Linked DNA regions of Homo sapiens. The protein of the gene in region 1 purifies or fractionates together with the protein of each later gene. This does not show direct contact. Each region holds a gene or a part of one and is shown in the gene's direction. Other genes may lie near its edges. The genes, in order: KDM6A, ASXL1, TFE3, YEATS2, KANSL2, SIX4 and KAT14.

Region 1 (3,046 bases):
TACTTTTCTCAACTTTAAATGTTTTAATATTGTCTTCATCAGGCCTGCTGAGCATTGTCATTTTAAAATCTGAGAATATTTGATAAATTGATGAAAGAAAAATTATGAAGTCATAGACATTAGAATCAAGTCTCTTGGCATTATTTCTAGTTGGTATATCTTTTATGCTAAAAATATTCAATATTCAGTTGCTGGTCACAAATAATTTCTCCCCCACAATAGGTATTGTCTTCTAAGAACTCTGAAGCAATGTCAGACATTGAGGGAAGCTCTCATTGCTGCAGGAAAAGAGATTATATGGCATGGGCGGACAAAAGAAGAACCAGCTCATTACTGTAGCATTTGTGAAGTAAGTAATTGTTTTTATCCACAGTTGTTTTATAAAGCCTCTTCCCTCTCCACTGTTGGTTTCTCTTTATTTTTAAAAAACTTTTTTATACTTTTATGTAATCCAGTTTATAGTAATTAACATTGGATTCAATTTTGTTGCTTAGCCATTATATTAAAATTCAGTGTGATAATAATGATATTTCACTGTGAATTAACCTTAAAAGTATCTACTGCAGAGTCATTTTTGTGGTAGATCTTCAACAGACAATAATCAGCAAATTTAGTCTGAGATTTTAAACTAAGAACAATCTAGATGTACACAGATGCCAATAAACTGGATGTTTGGTGTAACTCTAGGCAGATCGATTATCAGTCCTCTCTGGTGCAATTAACAATACATTTGTCAATCTTGTGTGGCCAAGGCTTGCAAGAGGTGCAGGAACAAAGATGTGGTGCCTCCTATGAAGGAGCTTAAATTCTACTTGGAGCAGACAGATTATAAACAACTAATTGTAATGTACATGAGACTATGATGAATGTGAAGTTGGACTTCCTGTTAATGATAACACTGAGGGGGAAAATGACCTAATTTTTTCTTCTAGTATTGGCATAAGAACTCACAAACGTATTAGCATTTGAGTCCATCCTTGGAAAAAAGAGTATGATATCAAGTAGACTAAAAAAGTGATGAGAATCGGAGGTAGACTGTCATGGGCTATAGGCACAAGAAGAGAACAGGGAAATGAAATGGTTTTAGAAAAGGTTGAATGTGTTCCGATTTGGCTGGAACACAGACTGTGCAAATTCCGCTCATAAGTCTAGGTGGCATTTAATTTATAGCACATCTTGAATGGTTTTAAGGAATTTGATATTCCAAGGTTATTGAAGCCATTAAAAGGTTTTGAGCAGGCAACTAAGGGTAAGTAAGATATGTGTTTCAGGGAGAAAAGTGGTTGGAAAGGACAGCGATATATAAGCTATTGCAGTGGTCTTAAGAGTTATGGGACTGTAAACTAGTTCAACCATTGTGGAAGTCAGTGTGGCGATTCCTCAGGGATCTAGAACTAGAAATACCATTTGACCCAGCCATCCCATTACTGGGTATATACCCAAATGACTATAAATCATGCTGCTATAAAGACACATGCACACGTATGTTTATTGCAGCATTATTCACAATAGCAAAGACTTGGAACCAACCCAAATGTCCAACAATGATAGACTGGATTAAGAAAATGTGGCACATATACACCATGGAATACTATGCAGCCATAAAAAATGATGAGTTCATGTCCTTTGTAGGGACATGGATGAAATTGGAAACCATCATTCTCAGTAAACTATCGCAAGAACAAAAAACCAAACACCGCACATTCTCACTCATAGGTGGGAATTGAACAGTGAGATCACATGGACACAGGAAGGGGAACATCACACTCTGGGGACTGTTGTGGGATGGGGGGAGGGGGGAGGGATAGCACTGGGAGATATACCTAATGCTAGATGATGAGTTAGTGGGTGCAGCGCACCACCATGGCACATGTATACATATGTAACTAACCTGCACAATGTGCACATGTACCCTAAAACTTAAAGTATAATTTAAAAAAATAATAATAATAATAAATAAATAAATAAATAAATAAATAAATAAAGTACCTGTAAAAAAAAAAAAGTTATTTTAAGGCCTAGACTAGAACCTGGCAATGGGAATATTAAAGAAGGGAAAGAATTCAAAAATATTTAGAGGGTAAAATCAGCGAGACACCTCATTAAATGGCAGAAGTGGAAGGACAAGTTGAAGAATGCTCACCAATTTTCTAGCTCAGGTCACTAGGTTTGTATTGCTGCTTGTTGACAGTAATGGATAACATGGTGAACTCTAGGATTGTAGTTAACTGTTAAAAGAAGACATGGGATCATAAGAGTTTTCTGTCATTGAAGAAATTTAAGGATAAGCCAAAGACAGGATGTTGATGGTCCATTTCAAACCTTGAAATTCTGTAATTCTAGCATCAACCTTTATTTGAAATGATAGAATCCATTGATTTTTTTTTTAAATGTCATATGGCCTGACCAAAGTGAGTCATTAGGAGATCAGATAGATTCCAGTTAGGTGTGTTGTTCCTTATCCTACCTGAACCCTAGCAACTCATCAATCTTTCTGTATAAGATAGAGGTATTATTTCTAAAATCATGCTGTACTCATGAATACATAAAAATGATCACTTATGTCTGATTGTATACTAATGTTTTAGATTTAAAAATAGGTTGACCTTTATCAAACTTTTGAACTGGGCTTTGCCAGTGGTTGTCATGAGTATGTCATTCCCTTTGATTATTCCCCTAAATATGCATTACTACCCATGTCTTTGGATTTGGTGCAAAATAAACCTGGTCTGTTAAAGATTCTCAAACACAGCCATGTTTTTCTTACCACCTACTCTTAACCAGAGATCACTGTCCACAATTTCATTCAAGTAGAATTCCATGATTATACTAAAGCAGTACAGTAAATACCACTATCTCTATTGAATACGTTTTTCTCTTGTATAAAACAGGTGGAGGTTTTTGATCTGCTTTTTGTCACTAATGAGAGTAATTCACGAAAGACCTACATAGTACATTGCCAAGATTGTGCACGAAAAACAAGCGGAAACTTGGAAAACTTTGTGGTGCTAGAACAGTACAAAATGGAGGACCTGATGCAAGTCTA
Region 2 (3,500 bases), on another chromosome or scaffold:
GACCATGAAACAACTTAGTATGCCATTGTTTCAGTTTATTTTTTAAGCATTACTGGGAACTAAATCCACTTGACTTACTTTTTGCATTTAGGTTTAAATAATTGTTCCTGGGTAGATACAGAATAAAACTCAATCTCCCCACTTCCAGCAGAGAAAAAACAAATGAAATACTGTTCTTTTTGTGTACTTACTAGAAAATGTTTAACTGGAAAAAAAGTTCTGCTTGTTTTATTGGCACAGCACCATTGATTCTGTGATTCTTTGTCATAGTATTCTGTGGCAGTTTCTGAGTATGATATGTAGATTGAAATATAGAGGCTAGGAAACTTTTAATAGTAAAATTTTACTAAAAATTTATTAACTTATTAAAATATAACTTGAAAAAATTGTGAGGTTTTTCTAAATTTCTTGGAAATTTGATTTATATTGTCAAAAAGCACTGAAGAAGTGTTAGTTATGGATTTCGGGTATCACATAATGTTTATTCCAGAGTTTTCTGAGTGTGATTTATGTGAATTTCATTTGGTTATTCTTTTACTATTTTCACAGTGAAATTGTCATGAGATTTTTTCTTCTGTATTTCTTGCTTAGCTTCTTCTCATTTAAGAATGAGTTGGAGGGATTAGGTCTTTAAGTAGGCAGATGGATTGTATAACCCTCATCCATTCTTTTGTGGTTTTACAGTGGGACTTCCCCTCTCGCATGCCTCAATGCTATGCTACATTCCAATTCAAGAGGAGGAGAGGGGTTGTTTTATAAACTGCCTGGCCGAATCAGCCTTTTCACGCTCAAGGTAAGTGATATGAACTCTCTTTTGGTGCAGTGATTCTTGGACTTTTAATGTGCATAAAAATCACCTGGTAGGTCTGGAATAGGGGCCATGAATTTGCATTTCTCATATGCAGTCAGGTGACACTGATGTTTTTCTTTTTTTTAGACATAGTCTCGCTGTGTCACCCAGGCTGGAGTGCAATGGGGCGAGATCTCGGCTCACTGCAATCTCTGCCTCCCATGTTCAAGTGATTCTCCCACCTCAACCTCCCAAGTAGCTGGGACTACAGGCACATGCCACCATGCTCGGCTAATTTTTTTATTTTTTTTAATAGAGACGGGGTTTCACCATGTTGGCCAGGCTGGTCTCGAAATCCTGACCTCAGGTGATCCACCTACCTCGGCCTCCCAAAGTGCTGGGATTACAGGCATGAGCCACCGCACCTGGCCAGATGCTGTTGGTTCTAAATGGCACTTTGAGGTGTTCTAATATGAATCAGATATTAGAAATTATTTAGTCATAGCAGCTCTTGTTTGTGTGTTCATCTTTTCTTGTCTATATCTTTGTAGATTGTACAAAACTGAAGCATAACTATGGGGATAATTGCAGATGTGCCTTTTTTTTTTTTTTTTTTTTTTTATTCTGAGATGGAGTCTCACTCTGTTGCCCAGGCTGGAGTGCAGTGGTGCGATCTCAGCTCATTGCACCCTCCACCTCCCAGGTTCAAGCAATTCTTCTGCCTCAGCCTCCTGAGTAGCTAAGAGTGCACTACCATGCCCAGGTAATTTTTGTATTTTTAGTAGAGACGGGGTTTCACCATGTTGGCCAGGCTCGTCTTGAACTCCTGACCTTGTGATCCGTCCGCCTTAGCCTCCCAAAGTGCTGGGATTACAGGCGTGAGCCACTGCACCTGGCCACAGATGTGCCTTAATTAGGATTTTGTTGTAGTAATGATGTGAAGGATAAATTACTGGTCAGCTAATGTAAGACCTACTCTATGGAAAATAACTGAAATGTGAACATATTTGTGGAAATTAAGTGACAGTAATTATAAAGTAAGAGTACTTAAATCAGGTAGAGTTCATAATAAAGCTTAAATAGGGCCGAAATGAACAGGCTAATTATTTTTCCACCATTTGTGATATATATGGTAATCATTTAGACCGGGGGTCTGCAAAGTTTTTCTGTAAAGGACCAGAAAATCAATGTTTTTTTGTTTTGTGGATCATACTGTCTTTGTCTTAACCACTCAGGTCTGCCATTGTAGTAGGAAAGCAGCCATACCCAAATGAATGGGCATGGCTGTGTTCCAAAAAAAAAAAAAATTTATTTACAAATGTTTGTTTTACTTACGAAAACAGGCTGCAGGCCAGATTTGATTTGGGGCTGTACTTTGTCGACCCCTGATTTAGACATAAGATGACTTGTCGACATTGGAGAAACTGAAAATTTGATGCTGACCCTTTCGTTCTTCCATAGTGGGTTATAAATTTTAGCAGTCAGTACAAACTTTTTCCTTTAAGTTTTGTTTTCTTGATGGACTGTATTCAAAATAAATACCTGAACAAATACCAACTATATAACATGAAGCCATAAAACTTGGTCTTTATATATAAATAAAGTTTATCTTGGGGTCAGATGTCTGTGCTGTTTTCTATATTTTTTTATATCCAATAGTTTGGTCTTTTTCCTTTCAGTTTTGTATGCTTTTCTTGTAATCGAGCCTTGGAAGAGACAGAGCCACTGAGCCCAAAACCTAGCTTTGTGGTCGGCTGTGGTGGCTCATGCCTGTAATCCCAGCACTTTGGGAGGCTAAGGCGGGAGGATTGCTTAAACTCAGGAGTATGAGACCTTGTCTCTATTAAAAAAAAAAAAAAAAAAAAAAAGCCTTGCGTGGTGGTGTGTGTGCTTATAGTCTTAGCTACTCAGGAGGCTGAAGCAGGAGGGTAGCTTGGAGATGGAGGCTGCAGTGAGCTGTGATCACACCACTGCTCTCCAGCCTGGGCCACATAGCAAGACCCTGTCTCAAAACAAAAACTTAGCTTTGTAACCTGGGAGGGATTTAACCCTTCTTTTTGGTGGAATATGCATCCCTGGCATTGAGTCAGTCCTTAATAAATGATAGCCTTTATGATGATCTGAGGTTTATCATTCTTAATTGCCTGTTAATGGCATTTTTCTATTAATATTATCTATTTTTTGAGATAGGGTCTTGTTCTGTCACCTGGGCTGGAGTGCAGTATCATAGTCACAGCTCACTGCAGCCTTGACCTACTAGGCTCAAGTGATCCTCCCACCTCAGCCTTCTGAGTAGCTAGGACTTCAGGCGCATACCACTATGCCTGGCTAATTTTTTGTATTTTTTGTGGAGAAGGAGTTTTGCCATGTTGCCCAGGCTGGTCTCGAGCTCCTGGGGTCAAGCGATCCACTGGCTTTGGCCTCCCAAACTGCCAGGATTACAGACGTGGGCCACTGCACCTGGCCTATTATTTTTTAATTTAATATTAATTTATATTTTTAGAAACAGGGTCTCACACTGTTGTCCACAGCTGGAGTGCAGTAGTATAATCATAGCTCACCGTAGCCTTGAACTCCTGGGCTCAAGCAGTAGTCCCACCTCAGCCTCCCGAGTAGCGTACACCATCACCCCAGCTAATTTTTAAATTTTTTCCTAGAGATGAAGTCTTGCTATGTTGGTTAAACTGGTCTCAAACTCCTGGCCTCAAGT
Region 3 (2,566 bases), 3.9 Mb from region 1:
ATACCCACTTTACAGTTTGCGACTCTGAAGCTTCAGAGATGTTAAGCACCTTGCCTAAAGTTTTGGAACTAGTGAGTAGCAGAAGCTGAATTCCAACCCAGGGAACCTACCCTTTTCAACCTTTATACTCCTCTGCCTCTGAGGGACTCTGAACCCTACTTATCCTGCACCCAACCCCTATTTTTTACAGGAACTAGAACTGCAGGCCCAGATCCATGGCCTGCCAGTACCTCCCACTCCAGGGCTGCTTTCCTTGGCCACGACTTCGGCTTCTGACAGCCTCAAGCCAGAGCAGCTGGACATTGAGGAGGAGGGCAGGCCAGGCGCAGCAACGTTCCATGTAGGGGGGGGACCTGCCCAGAATGCTCCCCATCAGCAGCCCCCTGCACCGCCCTCAGATGCCCTTCTGGACCTGCACTTTCCCAGCGACCACCTGGGGGACCTGGGAGACCCCTTCCACCTGGGGCTGGAGGACATTCTGATGGAGGAGGAGGAGGGGGTGGTGGGAGGACTGTCGGGGGGTGCCCTGTCCCCACTGCGGGCTGCCTCCGATCCCCTGCTCTCTTCAGTGTCCCCTGCTGTCTCCAAGGCCAGCAGCCGCCGCAGCAGCTTCAGCATGGAAGAGGAGTCCTGATCAGGCCTCACCCCTCCCCTGGGACTTTCCCACCCAGGAAAGGAGGACCAGTCAGGATGAGGCCCCGCCTTTTCCCCCACCCTCCCATGAGACTGCCCTGCCCAGGTATCCTGGGGGAAGAGGAGATGTGATCAGGCCCCACCCCTGTAATCAGGCAAGGAGGAGGAGTCAGATGAGGCCCTGCACCTTCCCCAAAGGAACCGCCCAGTGCAGGTATTTCAGAAGGAGAAGGCTGGAGAAGGACATGAGATCAGGGCCTGCCCCCTGGGGATCACAGCCTCACCCCTGCCCCTGTGGGACTCATCCTTGCCCAGGTGAGGGAAGGAGACAGGATGAGGTCTCGACCCTGTCCCCTAGGGACTGTCCTAGCCAGGTCTCCTGGGAAAGGGAGATGTCAGGATGTTGCTCCATCCTTTGTCTTGGAACCACCAGTCTAGTCCGTCCTGGCACAGAAGAGGAGTCAAGTAATGGAGGTCCCAGCCCTGGGGGTTTAAGCTCTGCCCCTTCCCCATGAACCCTGCCCTGCTCTGCCCAGGCAAGGAACAGAAGTGAGGATGAGACCCAGCCCCTTCCCCTGGGAACTCTCCTGGCCTTCTAGGAATGGAGGAGCCAGGCCCCACCCCTTCCCTATAGGAACAGCCCAGCACAGGTATTTCAGGTGTGAAAGAATCAGTAGGACCAGGCCACCGCTAGTGCTTGTGGAGATCACAGCCCCACCCTTGTCCCTCAGCAACATCCCATCTAAGCATTCCACACTGCAGGGAGGAGTGGTACTTAAGCTCCCCTGCCTTAACCTGGGACCAACCTGACCTAACCTAGGAGGGCTCTGAGCCAACCTTGCTCTTGGGGAAGGGGACAGATTATGAAATTTCATGGATGAATTTTCCAGACCTATATCTGGAGTGAGAGGCCCCCACCCTTGGGCAGAGTCCTGCCTTCTTCCTTGAGGGGCAGTTTGGGAAGGTGATGGGTATTAGTGGGGGACTGAGTTCAGGTTACCAGAACCAGTACCTCAGTATTCTTTTTCAACATGTAGGGCAAGAGGATGAAGGAAGGGGCTATCCTGGGACCTCCCCAGCCCAGGAAAAACTGGAAGCCTTCCCCCAGCAAGGCAGAAGCTTGGAGGAGGGTTGTAAAAGCATATTGTACCCCCTCATTTGTTTATCTGATTTTTTTATTGCTCCGCATACTGAGAATCTAGGCCACCCCAACCTCTGTTCCCCACCCAGTTCTTCATTTGGAGGAATCACCCCATTTCAGAGTTATCAAGAGACACTCCCCCCTCCATTCCCACCCCTCATACCTACACCCAAGGTTGTCAGCTTTGGATTGCTGGGGCCAGGCCCCATGGAGGGTATACTGAGGGGTCTATAGGTTTGTGATTAAAATAATAAAAGCTAGGCGTGTTTGATGCGCTTTTAACTTTGGCAAAGAGTCTCCTGTCCTTGTTTTACACTGTGCAGTGAACATAGCCCATGCAGGCCAAGAGGGATAAAAGTCCTTGGGAGAAACAGATTCCAGAAGGATGGATAAAAGAATTTAGAAAGGAAGAGGGCATGGAGGAAGACAATATGCAAACAAAAGACAGTATTTTTAAAGACCAATCACCAGGCACAATTTTAACTGCTGCAAGTGTTTCATCTAATTTATTTCTCTAAAGGGATGTTAGTCAGAACATGCTGCTTCTTACTTCCATTTGGTCTTTGAAGAAGCTGAGGAATAGAATTGAACTGTTCTGAAGATATGCAAGCCTGTAAATGGGTGAGGCGGTAAAACAGTAAAGTCAGGTGAGTGAGGGCTCGATTGAAAAATGCCACTGAGGGCAGAGGGGGAAAGAAGCTTTTCTTGCAAATCCACTTTTGAAACTGATAAAGAAGTCTATGAGGATATTTCCTGGCAGACAACAGAGGTATTTAAGATGGTGGAAAGGAC
Region 4 (3,500 bases), on another chromosome or scaffold:
ATCAGATTCTCACAGGAGCGCGAACCCTGTTGAGAACTGTGCATGCGAGGGATCTAGGTTGTGTGCTCCTTATGAGAATCTAATGCCTGATGATCTGAGGTGGAACAATTTCTTCCCCAAACCACCCCCCGCCTCCTGTCCCAATTCATGGAAAAGTTGTCTTCCATGAAACTGGTCCCTGGTGCCACAAAGCTTGGGGACAGCTGGTTTGGATGTATTCCTTACTTCTGCTAGGTTTGGAGATGGAAAGAGAAATACAGACTCTACCTAGGTTTGTAAGTCTTAAAGCCCCATGGAAATGAGGCAGTTTATCTGCAGTTAAAGAAACTTTTGCTTTGACATATAGAGAAAAACCGTTTGGGCAGTGTTGAAAAGGATAGGATAAAAGGAAATTATTTCCCTCTGAATCAGAAGTAGAAGGGTACAGCATTCAGGGTCATTGGAAGTTAACCGCCCTTGCCAAAATGCAGTGTGTCAGCTCATCATCCTTGCGTTCATTGACCATGATGTGTCAGTTCCACTCTCACTTGGTGTTTTTTCCTCATACCTAAGCAGTGGTATGTCCAAAAGTTAAATGTGTAAGAAAAGGACAATGTAAATATTTCAGAAGTCATCCAGGGAGCTACTTAGATTCTTGTGATATCCTTGGTGCAAAAATAAACCATTGGGAAGGAAGCTATTCCAATAATCACTGGAATGAAGGTGGAGAAGGAAATTGGAAGTTAGTATTTGTTGAGTGAATATTCATAGTCCAGGTAGTTCAAATGCATTATCTCACCAAAAGAGAAGTAAAAAGACTTCAAGGCTTTGAAGTGGGATTTGAAAGGCAAAGAAGAATGGGGTCCTGGAGTCATTGTAAATGAAGGAAAGTCTTCATTTTTCCTGAGACAGGGAGACAACATCGAGCACTGTAAAGTTACACTAAATTCCAGCAATTCCCTGACATTGAATCAGATGCCCAAAAGTTGGGAAGCACCTAGCTGAGCACATTTAAGTGTTGATTAAAATACTTGGCTAGAGGCTGGGTGCAGTGGCTCACACCTGCAATCCCAGCACTTTGGAGGGCCAAGGCGGGCGGATCATGAGGTCAGGAGATCGAGACCATCCTGTCCAACATGGTGAAACCCCCTCTCTACTAAAAATACAAAATTAGCTGGGCATGGTGGCACACGCCTGTAGTCCCAGCTCCTTGGGAGGCTGAGGCAGGAGAATCGCTTGAACCCGGGAGGCAGAGGTTGCAGTGAGCCAAGATCTTGCCATTGCACTCCAGCCTGGCGACAGAGTGAGACTCCGTCTCAAAAAAATACTTGGCTAGAAAATGTCAGTAGCAAGCCTTCTCTTGATCTCCCACGACCACGTCAAAGTATCTTCATTGTACTCAGAGCCGAAATACAGTCAGTTGTCATGCAGTTGAAAGGAAATAGATTTTGATCTAAAATCTAGGAAGTTCTCCTCACTCTTGTCACAGGGTAGGTAGATTACAGAAAAGACGGAGGAAAATGGGAAAGAAGAAGGAATGGCACTAAAAGGGAAACATCTCTCTGGGCTCATTTGTTTTTTATGCTAAAGCTTTGCTTGATACTTTTTATGATGTTGCTGTCATTCATTGTATTTTTAGATCTCCAGTCTGGCTCAGCTGCCAGTGGTGGGAGTGGTGCCGGAGGAGGAGGAGGAGGAGGAGGAGGAGGCGGCAGTGGCAGCGGTGGAGGCGGCAGCACAGGAGGAGGAGGAGGAACAGCAGGAGGAGGAACTCAAAGTACTGCTGGCCCTGGAGGGATATCTCAGCACCTGACTTACACATCTTACATCCTCAAGCAAACTCCCCAGGTCTGGTTCTCTGTAACTGATATTTTAAATCATTTAGCTATTGGATAACTATGCTTAATTATAATTGATTTACCTTTACGGCTCTGGGATCAGGGTTCAATACTAACACCTTAACCGTGTTATCTATATCTATATCTTGGCCGGGTGTGGTAACTCATGCCTGTAATCCTAGCACTTTGGGAGGCCAAGGTGGGTGGATCGCTTGAGCCCAGGAGTTCGAGACCAACCTGGGCAACATGGCAAAACCCTGTCTCTACTAAAAATACCAAAATTAGCTGGGCGTGGTGGTGCACGTCTACAGTCCCAGCTACTCCGAAGGTTGAGGTGGGAGGATTGCTTGAACCTGGGAGGTTGAGGCTGCAGTGAGCTGAGGTCGCACCACTGCACTCCACCCTGGCTGGGTGACAGAGTGAGACCCTTTCTCAAAAAAAAACTATGTGTTTTTATCTTTTTTGCTTGCTTTGAGAGAAGAGGAAGTAGAGATTGAGAAAGATTTTAGTAACTTATCCAGGATCTTCCTGCCAAGCCAATGGTAGAATTTGGGTTTAAGCCAGGCACGGTGGCTCACGCCTGTAATCCCAGCATTCTGGGAGGCCGAGGCAGGCAGATCACCTGAGGTCAGGAGTTCAAGACCAGCCTGGTCCATGGTGAAACCCTGTCTCTATTAAAAATACAAAAATCAGTCGGGTGTGGTGGTGCATGCCTGTAATCCCAGCTACTTGGAAGGCTGAGGCAGGAGAATCACTTGAACCCGGGAGGCAGAGGTTGCAGTGAGCCAAGATCACTCCATGGTACTCCAGCCTGGGGGAAAAGGGTGAGACTCTGTCTCAAAAAAAAAAAAAAAGGAAAAGAATTTGGGTTTAAACCCAGATCTTCCTGCCTTAAAGATTTCTACTATGCTAATTGCCTCCAAAATCCATGAGGTAATAAACAGTATTAATGTACAGTTGAAAAGTTGCTCATAGAAGGGAGTGATCAAAGAGATGGTATCAAGTTGTAATATTTAGAGTTAAGTTAGATTTGATTAGGAACAGGTTTCCTCCTCGTCTCCTCTTGTCACTGAAGTCTTGGCTCTTTTTGAAGGAAAGTAATAGAATTTTGGTTCCAGATGTTCTTATTGAGAAAGATGATATCAGTCTGAATGATTAAATCCAGTTTTGAGGACTAAGTTGCAAAACATGAGTTTTCAACAGGCTGCTCTGTAACTACAGTGCAAAGTTTGAGAAGTGGGGATAACTAATGGAAGTAACACTTAGAGCACAACTATTCTTTTGAATTATTTTGCCTACATTGCAGAATTAAAGGGGAGAGCGTTGTAGCTTGTAACATGGGACGTTACATGTGATTTAAGGGATCAGAACAGCCCATCTGAATTTAACAAATTACCGATTAGTTCTTTATATTTTTTTCTAACTTAGGGCACATTTTTAGTTGGCCAGCCATCACCCCAGACTTCTGGAAAACAACTCACCACTGGGTCAGTGGTCCAAGGAACACTGGGAGTCAGCACATCTTCTGCACAAGGACAACAAACGCTAAAAGTCATCTCTGGACAGAAAACCACATTGTTTACACAGGTAAATACGCCCATGCACACACCCCAAATATGGGGTGATTATGGCATTTATTTACATATTTACATGTAGTTTCTCTCTTTTCACAAAGAAATTAAG
Region 5 (3,500 bases), on another chromosome or scaffold:
TTAGAGTAATTGTCAAAACACTATGTCCAGTCTTTTTTTGAGACAGAGTTTCAATCTTGTTGCCCAGGCTGGAGTGCAATGGCGCCGTCTTGGCTCACCGCAGCATCCACCTCCTGGGTTCAAGTGATTCTCCTCCCTCAGCCTCCTGAGTAGCTAGGATTACAGGCATGTGCCACCATGTCTGGCTGATTTTGTATTTTTAGTAGAGACGGGGTTTCTCCATGTTGGTCAGGCTGGTCTTGAACTCCCTATGTCCAGTCTTGGATCTGAAATCTGACTTTTTGCACATGGGTTATAGTGAAAGCACTTAGCTTGAAGTCAGGAGACATGGATTCTAGTGTGAGTCCCCACTGACCAGCTCTGTGTCTGCACAGTTAGCTTAAATTTTCTGGGCCTCAGTATTCTCATCTGCATATTGAGTAGTTGGGAAAAGTTTCTAAGTCCTTGGTTCAGATATTCTTCAGTTCAGAAATAAGCACAGGTTAATCCTAAATTGCTTGGGAATCTTGTTTTAAAAGGTGGGAAGGTAGAATAGGAGCAATTGAATGTCAGGAAGTAAGGTTAATAGGAAGAAGAATTAAGTGATCATTCTTAAATTTGTTTTTCAGACCCTTGGTCTCTGTTTCAGTAAGAGTAATTTTGTTTCATTTGTTGAGATTCCACTTAAGGCTGCAATTTCAGAGTTCTGTTGGTAAAAGACAAAATTTGTGTTAAATAGGCTATATCACACTTTTAGAATATGGAGAGGTGTATTTGGGATTGAGGTTGACTCATTCTTTATGCACTAGGTTTTAAAGTTTTTTGTCTTTTGCATAATATTGGTGAATCTATTTTTGTTAAATGTTGAATTTCTAGCCTTTAGGATGTGCTTTTCTTATATAACTATTTTCATCGTAATTGTTTGTGTGTTCTTTTGTGGGTCTATTTTATCTGTCTTTTTCCATTTCAGGCCCATACCACTCGTTCCAGTCAGAGGTGCTTGGCCTTTGTGGATGATGTTCGTTGTTCCAATCAGTCTCTTCCAATGACCAGACACTGCCTTACCCGTATCTTTTTACTCTGCCTGTTAAGGCTGTGGTTTGCTAGTTTGAAGACTAGTGGGAATCTCTGTGCTAGTTTGCTTAATTGAAGGATTTTGTTTTCCTTTGGCCCTGAATCAAGGCCAGCAGTTTGCTGAAGCTGTTGGTTTCAAGCAGGAGCCTAAAGAATTGTCTTTCTATGGTCTGTTGGCCATTTCATAACTTTGGAAATGTAATGGTCAATTCATTAGAAAGAAACATGAGTCGTTTTTCATAGATGTGGGCTAATATTTATTTATAGCCTTAATACTTGGGTCCCAAAATATACATAAAATATTTGTAATTGTCTCAAGGTTTCTGATTTAACTTGCTTATTAGGATCCTAATGCTGTTAAATCTAATTATAAACTTAAAAAATTACTGTGGGTTTTCCACCCCAGTTGAAAGGATGATTTTGCACTGTGAACTTCTAGTATTATCCTTTTGTGTGGTTAGGGCCCTCACTTCTGTATTTTATTTTATTTTTTATTTTTTGGAGATGGAGTTTTGCTCTAGTCTCCCAGGCTGGAGTGCAATGGCGTGATCTCGGCTCACTGCAACCTCCACCTCACTGCACCCTCCGCCTCCCGAGTTCAAGCGATTCTCCGAGTAGCTGGGATTATAGGCACGTACCACAATACCTGGCTAATGTTTGTATTATTAGTAGAGATGGGGTTTCACCATGTTGGCCAGGCTGGTCTCGAGCTCCTGACCTCAGGTGATCCACCCGCCTTGGCTTCCCAGAATGCTGGGATTACAGGAGTAAGCCACTGTGCCCGGCTTTTATTTTTTTATTTGTGTTTTTTGAGACAGGGTCTCACACTGTTATCCAGGCTGGAGTGCAGTGGCTCAGTCATAGCTCACTGCAGCCTTAACTCCTGGGTCAAGCAATTCTCCTACCTCAGCCTTCTGAATAGCTGGGACTATGTATGTGTGCCACCATGCCTGGCTAATTATTTATTTTATTTTATTATTAATTATATTTTTTGAGGCAGAGTCTCGCTGTGTCGCCCAGGCTGGAGTGCAGTGGTGTGATCTCGGCTCACTGCAACTTCCACCTCCTGGGTTCAAGCAATTCTTGTGTGTCATCCTCCTGAGTAGCTGGGATTACAGGCACGTGCCACCACGCCTGGCTAATTTTTGTATTTTTAGTAGAGATGGGGTTTCACCATGTTGGCCAGGTTGGTCTCAAATTCCTGACCTCAAGTGATCTGCCTGCCTCGGCCTCCCAAAGTGTTGGGATTACAGGCATGAGCCACTGCACCTGGCCTATTTTTTTTTTTTTTATTTTTTGTAGAGTCAATTTTCAATATGTTGCCCAGGCTGGTCTCAAACTGCTGGGCTTAAGCAGTCTGCCAGTCCTTTCCTCCCCAAATGCTGGGCTTACAGTCATCAGCCACTGTACCTGGCCTTTATAAACTTAAAAAAGAAACTTGGCTCTTTAAAAAGTTTTCTTTTTTTAATTTTTTTGAGACAGAGTCTTACTCTGTTGCCCAAGTTGGAGTGCAGTGGCATGATGATGGCTTACTGCCGTGATCTGCTGGGCTTAAACGATCTTCCCACCTCAGCCACCAGAGTAGCTGGGACTACAGGCATGTGCTACCACGTCCAGCTAATTTTATTTAATTTTTGTAGAGAGGTTGTGTCACTATGTTTCCCAGGCTGGTCTCGAACTTCTGAGCTCATGTGATCCTCCCGCCTCAGCCTCCCAAAGTGCTAGGATTACAGTTGTGAGCCACCATGCCCAGTCTCTTGACTCTTTTGTGATAACACTTAGTCACTGTGCCTGGCCTCTAACTTGCATACTTTAAACATCATTCAAATTAGAAGTTTGCTATTTCCAAAAATGAGATGCTTTTTTTCTTCTTTTCAATTAATTTGCCTTTGAACCATCATAATGTCTCTTGATTCTGTTAAAGGACTACATTTGGCATTGGGCCTTCAAACTTTTTTGAGTTGTTGATTGAATTGTGAAAGTGCTTATTTATTATAGGCATTGAGAAAAATTTCGCAGTAAAAGCACTTGTTAATTAAATAGGATTGCTGGATTTCATTTGCTTGGCAAGAAATGCCAAATATTTGGAAATTAAAACTTATTTTCTTTATTTGTTTTTTTTGAGACAGAATCTGACTCTGTCACCCAGGCTGGAGTGCAGTACCGTGATCTCAGCTTGCTGCATCCTCCACTCCCCTGGGTACAAGCGATTCTCCTGCCTCAGCCTCCCAAGTAGCTGGGATTGCAGGTGCCTGCCACCGTGCCCAGCTAATTTTTGTATTTTTAGTAGAGATGGGGTTTCACCGTGTTAGCCAGGATGGTCTCGATCTCCTGACCTTGTGATCTGCCTGCCTTGGCCTCCCAAAGTGCTGGGATTACAGGCATGAGCCACAGCGCCCGGCCACTTATTTTCTTTAATAGGGAGAGGAGAAGGAGAACCTCTTCTT
Region 6 (3,500 bases), on another chromosome or scaffold:
TCTGCTCTCGTTTGCTCTCCCTCCCAGCCTCAGACCAAATGGGAAACCCCATCACTACCCACCCCCCAACCCCGATTTGGTATTTCTCCCAAGTCAGAGAGCTGAGGAACAGGGTCCTGCCTGGAACAGAGGGACCAAGGACGTTGGGGAAGAGGTCTAATAGTTAGAAGGCCTCTGAGTGACACCCTTTCCCTCCCACCTCACCAGGGCACTGGATGGTGTTTGTTAAATAGGCCCCTTTGGCTTCCTTTGGATTCAAAGGCGACTGCACATAACTGTTCTTGGGTTGAAAGTGCCTTTTCCTACAACAAGGACAGCCACTTTGTTGAATGAGAGAGTTGTCAGTCTGGTGGAGTAGAAGTTTGGGAGCAGGTGAGAAAACGATCTCTTGTTAACTAACTGACCAAAAAAGAAAAGCTGAGCACTTCCTACCTCCTGCTCCTTTGGCAGCTTCATTTACCTCCAAGATAACACTAATCTGAATTGGTTTGAGGGGAGGGGAAGGAGTTCCTAAACAGGAAAGACCGACCACCTCATTTAAGGTGTTTTTTTCTATGGTGTCAGTAGCAGCATATGTAACAGTAAGGAATAGCACTTCTACACTGTAAAATCAAATATGTTCTTCTCCTGTAATGCTGAATTTACATCTTGCAGATGTCTGGACTTTCCCTGAATTTATTGTTATTTTAAATGATTGGGATCTGAGAGTTTATCTTCCCAGATTCTCTGGCTGGTCGGAATCTGCTGAAAGGCCTCTTAGTTTAAATAGGACTAGCAGATATCCTGCTGTGCTTTCCTTAAATACTGCCTTTAATGGATTTAGAAGCTGGTTTTCCAAACAAGTGGCACTGTGTAGAATGTCATCCCCCTGACCTTCTGAACATTTTGATTTCCCCCTCCATACAGTGAGTCAGATGGCAACCCCAGCACTGAAGATGAATCCAGCAAGGGACATGAGGATTTATCTCCTCACCCACTCTCCAGTTCATCTGATGGCATCACCAACCTCAGCCTTTCCAGTCATATGGAGCCAGTATATATGCAACAAATTGGAAATGCTAAGATATCATTAAGCTCTTCTGGAGTTCTGTTGAATGGAAGCTTGGTACCTGCAAGTACTTCACCTGTCTTCCTTAATGGAAATTCTTTTATTCAGGGACCCAGTGGAGTTATCCTTAATGGATTAAATGTGGGAAATACACAGGCAGTGGCATTGAACCCACCAAAAATGTCATCAAACATTGTGAGCAATGGTATATCCATGACTGACATACTGGGGTCTACTTCCCAGGACGTGAAGGAATTCAAAGTCCTCCAGAGTTCTGCTAACTCAGCAACCACCACGTCCTACAGCCCCAGTGTCCCTGTCTCATTCCCAGGCCTGATACCCAGCACTGAGGTGAAAAGAGAAGGCATTCAAACAGTGGCTTCCCAAGATGGAGGGTCTGTAGTGACTTTTACTACACCAGTGCAAATTAACCAGTATGGCATTGTCCAGATCCCCAATTCCGGAGCAAACAGCCAGTTCCTTAATGGGAGCATTGGATTCTCTCCACTGCAGCTGCCCCCTGTGTCAGTGGCAGCTTCACAAGGTAACAATCTCATTTGGTACCTTAATGCACCAGCAAATGTGTTCATCAGCTGCTGTAAGTGACGCATTTGGTGATAGCTATAGATTGATGTTTCTGTTCAGGTACCTTATTAGCTGCCGAAGCTGTAGAGTAGCCTTGATGTGATTCTCCTCTTTCACAATACCCATGTCATATCCAGGTTGCTTTATTCCCTTGCATCATGAGGATGGGCTTTTATTTTACTAACAACTGAATGGAAAAATACAGTTCATAGCAAGTCCTGCCAGTTCTACAATTACAGAAATATGATAAGTCAATCAGTGCTTACAAAATAACTCACTGCTTGGCATTTTAATATTAAAAATTAATAAAATTGCTAAGAACACAAAATTAGTCTAGCAGTTGGTAAGAATGCATACACTTTACCTAAGCATTATTTATTTGACCAAAAAATGTTTTAGAAGAACAAGCTAAAAAGACCGGATCAATTATGTTTGAATCCTGTTTCCTCCTATAATGAAGACTAACAGACCTAAAAGAAAATCAGAGGAATATGCCATTGGATTTCTATCGCTCAGCATATATACTAACCCCCTAAATGTGTGGGTTTATTTGTGAAGATAATAGTAAGCCTTATTTTATATGTTTGTGGCTTTACTAACAGCAATCTTCCAGAGAAAGCACTTAAATGAAATTCAGGAAAACTGAGGCTGATATATTAGTTCTTCACTGACTTTAAGCAAGCCTGGATCCTCTATGTCATTTTCTCTTTAAAGAAATAGAAATGGTTAGAATTTGGCAGTGGAGTTTGCATAATCCCTTGAATTCAGGAAGGGTAGATCTTAATGCACGTTTGCCTTCTTGTAGACAAATCTGAAAATCCAGATTTTTACAAAACCAAAGTAGTAATTGTTGGCTTTAAAGGTCTGCTTCCTATAAGATGGTTTTACCACCCCCCCAAAAAAATCAATTTATGCACAACTCTCTTGTTACCACAACTATGGTCTATGTCAGCTTATTGAAGGAATTAATGGAAAAATTGTTCTAAATTTCATTCTGTACATTTGCATTTCTTTAGGCAAAATGGTACTAAAACAAGACATTCCTGCAGCATACTATTCAGTTCATCATTGTTCCAAGTTATGGAAAGAGTTAAGTTACTATCTAACATAGGGCAAAAATATGAAAACCACAGGGAAAGCCAAAGTGCTTAGTTTGATAATAATTTAATGTGGATCTAACCCCTTTTCTCTCATTTGGAAAATTTCCAAACAGGTCACATTTTAAAGGCAACAAATTTGAGCAGAAAGAATGAGTTATGTATGTTGGGGGAGGAGAAAAGTAGAAATACTTTTAATTGTGTAATCTAGAGGAGCACTGCCATAGAAAATTATTATGAACTAATAGCTGAGTTTTTAAATGGGACATTTAATAGGAATAAGAATAGCATTTTCAGTTAAAATAAGTAAGATCAAATCTTAGACTGTCTGGGTGAGTTGAACAGACAGTCTAAGTTTAACCAGATAGTTAAGTTTAATCCAGTAAGCAACATTTCTATGGTAGTTAGGTATTGCAGTTCTCAATAAAACATTTTGGGGATTCAGTTTTTTCTCACAAACAGATACTGAGCCATTCTTTAAAATGTCTTGACAAGATAGACTTATCTTTCTATAGTTGGGATTTATGTGGAAAAGTAGAATATCTACATCTTTTACTCACTTTACAGTCTGAGCAACTAAGATTATTATTATTATTATTATTATTATTTTTAGGCGGAGACTCATTTTGTCACCCAGGCTGGAGTACAGTGGCGCGATCTCGGCTCACTGCAGCCTCTGCCTCCCGTGTTCAAGTGATTATCCTGCCTCAGCCTCCCTAGTAGCTGGGACTACAGGCGTGCATCACCATGACCGGCTAATCTTCGTGTGT
Region 7 (2,836 bases), on another chromosome or scaffold:
GTATCTGTTTCCTCACTGTTCATGAAGGCACCTAGCACAGTCCCTGGTGGGTACAGAGGGCTTTGGCCTGATGAATGTTCAGAGTGAATTTTAGATTTCATACATAAAAGTATAGCTGTAATCAAGCCAGCTTCGTGTAAAACAGTGCAGGTTACTTTAAAGTTTCAAGCAGATCAAAGAGTTTATATGAGTCAAAAAGCTAGGAATAATACCAGGTATTTTTCTTGACTTGAATTTGTTTATCTTCTGTGGTACCGGAGGCGTGATTATGAAACAAAGCCACCCAAACTGCAGCTCCTGTCACAGATTCGTTCCCACCTGCACAGGAGCGACCCTCACTGGACGCCGGAGCCCGACGCACCTCTCGATTACTGTTATGTGCGGCCAAATCACATCCCAACGATCAACTCCATGTGTCAGGAGTTTTTTTGGCCTGGTATGTTCCCCCTCCCAAACCAGGCAGGTCATTTTTCTGTACAGTCCATTCTAGCAATTTTTAAAATTAGTTTATGTGATATCCTTAAGATTTTTATTTATGATTTCGTTTAGTTTGTCTCTGCTAACATGGAAATATTAAAATACAAATACCTCTTGCTTTCCCAAAATCTAGAAGAAGCCAGCAATAAACAGTGTTTTTGTTTGTTTCTCTTCCCTGTTTGTCTCTGTTTCCAGAGTAAAAGATTCATCCTGTTTTGCTTCTGCATATGTTTAGATACCAGGTAATGTCTATCAAAGATACACAGACTGGTAGCTTGGGCGTGTTTGGACACTTTTGTTTTTGGCTTAATAATTCTTTATGTTTTGTTTATTTAGCTGTTCCTTAGAGAGTATTAGTACAGCCAGAAGGTGTTTTTTAAAAGCCAAATGCCCTGATCACAGACTGAGAATAAGGGTAAACCCAATATAATTTGTCATTTTATCAGCCTTAACAAAATTGCCTCTGAAGACCAAAGTCATTAATTAAAGGAACACATTTGCATTGCTAAATATAAACTATTCTTTGTGGATCTGCTTTCCCACGCTGCCTTGAAACCTAAAGGAAATAATACATGTCTTTCAGATGTTAGATACGATTTCATCAAGATAGAGCTGTGTCGTCTTTATTGTCACATAATCACATAACTGTGAATGTGGTGGCAGAGCTGCACTCATTCTTTTGGGAGTCATACTGAGCCAAAAGTAACATTCTGGGAGCATCTCCTGCTTCCTGCCCTTATGTTAGGTGCCTTCCATACATTATGCACAGAAGCATATTTTACTTATTTATTGTGAAAGGTAGCATTTGTACAAAAGAACTTATAAATTATATGTGTGGGGGGTAAAGGATGTGATAGAACACGCTCGGAGGATCTTTACTTAACCCTGTCAGGTCTAGGTATGCTCTTCATCTTACATATTGCAGAAACGGAGTCTCTGAGACATTTTGAAATGTGCCAAGCCACACATGGTAGAGGAGGCTGAGTTCAAAGCCAGCTGTGTCCAATTCTGAACCCGTGCACTGCTACCTACCCTATTCTGCCACTCTTCTTTTAGGAAATACTATGTAATTTCAATATTTTCTAAAATTCACTCTTATTTTTATGATCTGGTTGTGTGGTCTCTATGTTACCTCCAGTTTTGGTGTTTTTTTTTTTTTTTTTTAGCATGCAGGTGTAGCTATATGTACATGCTGAACAGCTTGGTGTTCCTTAATTCTCAAAGGCATGTGGTTTGAGTCTCCGATGGTTTCTTTTCTTTAGGCATTGACCTGTCTGAGTGTCTGCAGTACCCAGACTTCAGTGTTGTTGTTCTTTATAAAAAAGTCATCATTGCCTTTGGCTTCATGGTTCCTGATGTGAAATACAATGAAGCTTACATTTCATTTCTGTTCGTCCACCCTGAATGGAGAAGAGCAGGGATTGCAACTTTCATGATCTATCATCTGATTCAGGTAAGTTGTCTATGTTTATGATTTATCACCTGTGTCTGGGCTCCCCTGAACAACCTGGAGGAGGAATGAAGCTGAGCTAGCCCTTCCCAGCATGGCCCAATGGAATGGTTTCCTTGTAAACCAAGTGAAGAAAGCCAGTCATCAGCATTCATGAGGTTATCAAAGCACACAGTCAAAAATCTTCGACCCTCTAAAATAAGATTATTATTCAGACTCAGGTTTCATAGAAACCAGTTTGTGAACATGTGTATAAATAAAATGAGAAAATACCAAAAGCAAGAGCTTTAGGGTGGACTATTCATATTAGTAGTAGCTACTGCTCTTAGGATCATCACCTTCGCAACTCAGAGAAGTGAGGGTAGGACTATTATTTTTATTTTTTTAAATATTTGTAAACATTTTAGCACAACTGTATCAATAAGAATATGTATATATTTTTTGAGACAGGGTCTCATTCTGTCACCCAGACTGGAGTTGCACAATCATAGCTCACTGCAGCCTCAACCTCCTGGGCTCGAGTGATTTTCCCGCCTCAGCCTTCTGGGTAGCCAGGACCACAGGTGCACACTGCCATGCCCGGCTGATTTTTTGTAGGGACAGGGTCTCACTGTGTTGCCTGGTCTGTGCTTGAACTCCTTGGTTCAAGCAATCCTTCCACCTCAGCCTCCCGAGTGCTGGGATTATGGGCATGAGCCACTGTGCCTAGCTACATATTTTATTTTTGCTGATAGTTTGTAATTTTACTATCACTGTATAAGGCTGATATGAACCTTCTAAGATTTGATTCTAGTATTGAATTATAATTCATCCTTTAATATATTTGTATCACCTTTGAAGAAAATACACCATATATCACCATCAAAAAACATGCAAGGATTTTTTTCCCCTAGAATTTTTTTTAGTCAA

Evidence for each region.
Region 2: the proteins of KDM6A (region 1) and ASXL1 purify together in Homo sapiens (affinity purification with mass spectrometry, with the first as the bait; one large-scale study listed by BioGRID). This does not show direct contact.
Region 3: the proteins of KDM6A (region 1) and TFE3 purify together in Homo sapiens (affinity purification with western blotting; one study listed by BioGRID). This does not show direct contact.
Region 4: the proteins of KDM6A (region 1) and YEATS2 purify together in Homo sapiens (affinity purification with mass spectrometry, with the first as the bait; one large-scale study listed by BioGRID). This does not show direct contact.
Region 5: the proteins of KDM6A (region 1) and KANSL2 purify together in Homo sapiens (affinity purification with mass spectrometry, with the first as the bait; one large-scale study listed by BioGRID). This does not show direct contact.
Region 6: the proteins of KDM6A (region 1) and SIX4 purify together in Homo sapiens (co-immunoprecipitation; one study listed by IntAct). This does not show direct contact.
Region 7: the proteins of KDM6A (region 1) and KAT14 purify together in Homo sapiens (affinity purification with mass spectrometry, with the first as the bait; one large-scale study listed by BioGRID). This does not show direct contact.

What each region holds. Positions count from the first base shown.
Region 1 is NC_000023.11:45,107,188-45,110,233, forward strand, and holds part of KDM6A (lysine-specific demethylase 6A), read left to right. Parts: intron 1-222; coding exon 223-349; intron 350-2,891; coding exon 2,892-3,046. UniProt on the Homo sapiens protein: Histone demethylase that specifically demethylates 'Lys-27' of histone H3, thereby playing a central role in histone code. Demethylates trimethylated and dimethylated but not monomethylated H3 'Lys-27'.
Region 2 is NC_000020.11:32,368,331-32,371,830, forward strand, and holds part of ASXL1 (polycomb group protein ASXL1), read left to right. Parts: intron 1-684; coding exon 685-793; intron 794-3,500.
Region 3 is NC_000023.11:49,028,226-49,030,791, reverse strand, and holds the end of TFE3 (transcription factor E3), read left to right. Parts: intron 1-190; coding exon 191-634; 3' UTR 635-2,066; downstream 2,067-2,566. UniProt on the Homo sapiens protein: Transcription factor that acts as a master regulator of lysosomal biogenesis and immune response.
Region 4 is NC_000003.12:183,774,297-183,777,796, forward strand, and holds part of YEATS2 (YEATS domain-containing protein 2), read left to right. Parts: intron 1-1,618; coding exon 1,619-1,827; intron 1,828-3,245; coding exon 3,246-3,404; intron 3,405-3,500. UniProt on the Homo sapiens protein: Chromatin reader component of the ATAC complex, a complex with histone acetyltransferase activity on histones H3 and H4. YEATS2 specifically recognizes and binds histone H3 crotonylated at 'Lys-27' (H3K27cr).
Region 5 is NC_000012.12:48,665,239-48,668,738, reverse strand, and holds part of KANSL2 (KAT8 regulatory NSL complex subunit 2), read left to right. Parts: intron 1-949; coding exon 950-1,046; intron 1,047-1,145; exon of another isoform or gene 1,146-1,282; intron 1,283-3,500. UniProt on the Homo sapiens protein: Non-catalytic component of the NSL histone acetyltransferase complex, a multiprotein complex that mediates histone H4 acetylation at 'Lys-5'- and 'Lys-8' (H4K5ac and H4K8ac) at transcription start sites and promotes transcription initiation.
Region 6 is NC_000014.9:60,717,852-60,721,351, reverse strand, and holds part of SIX4 (homeobox protein SIX4), read left to right. Parts: intron 1-207; coding exon of another isoform or gene 208-229; exon of another isoform or gene 230-244; intron 245-906; coding exon 907-1,592; intron 1,593-3,500. UniProt on the Homo sapiens protein: Transcriptional regulator which can act as both a transcriptional repressor and activator by binding a DNA sequence on these target genes and is involved in processes like cell differentiation, cell migration and cell survival.
Region 7 is NC_000020.11:18,182,863-18,185,698, forward strand, and holds part of KAT14 (cysteine-rich protein 2-binding protein), read left to right. Parts: intron 1-260; coding exon 261-436; intron 437-1,739; coding exon 1,740-1,930; intron 1,931-2,836. UniProt on the Homo sapiens protein: Component of the ATAC complex, a complex with histone acetyltransferase activity on histones H3 and H4. May function as a scaffold for the ATAC complex to promote ATAC complex stability. Has also weak histone acetyltransferase activity toward histone H4.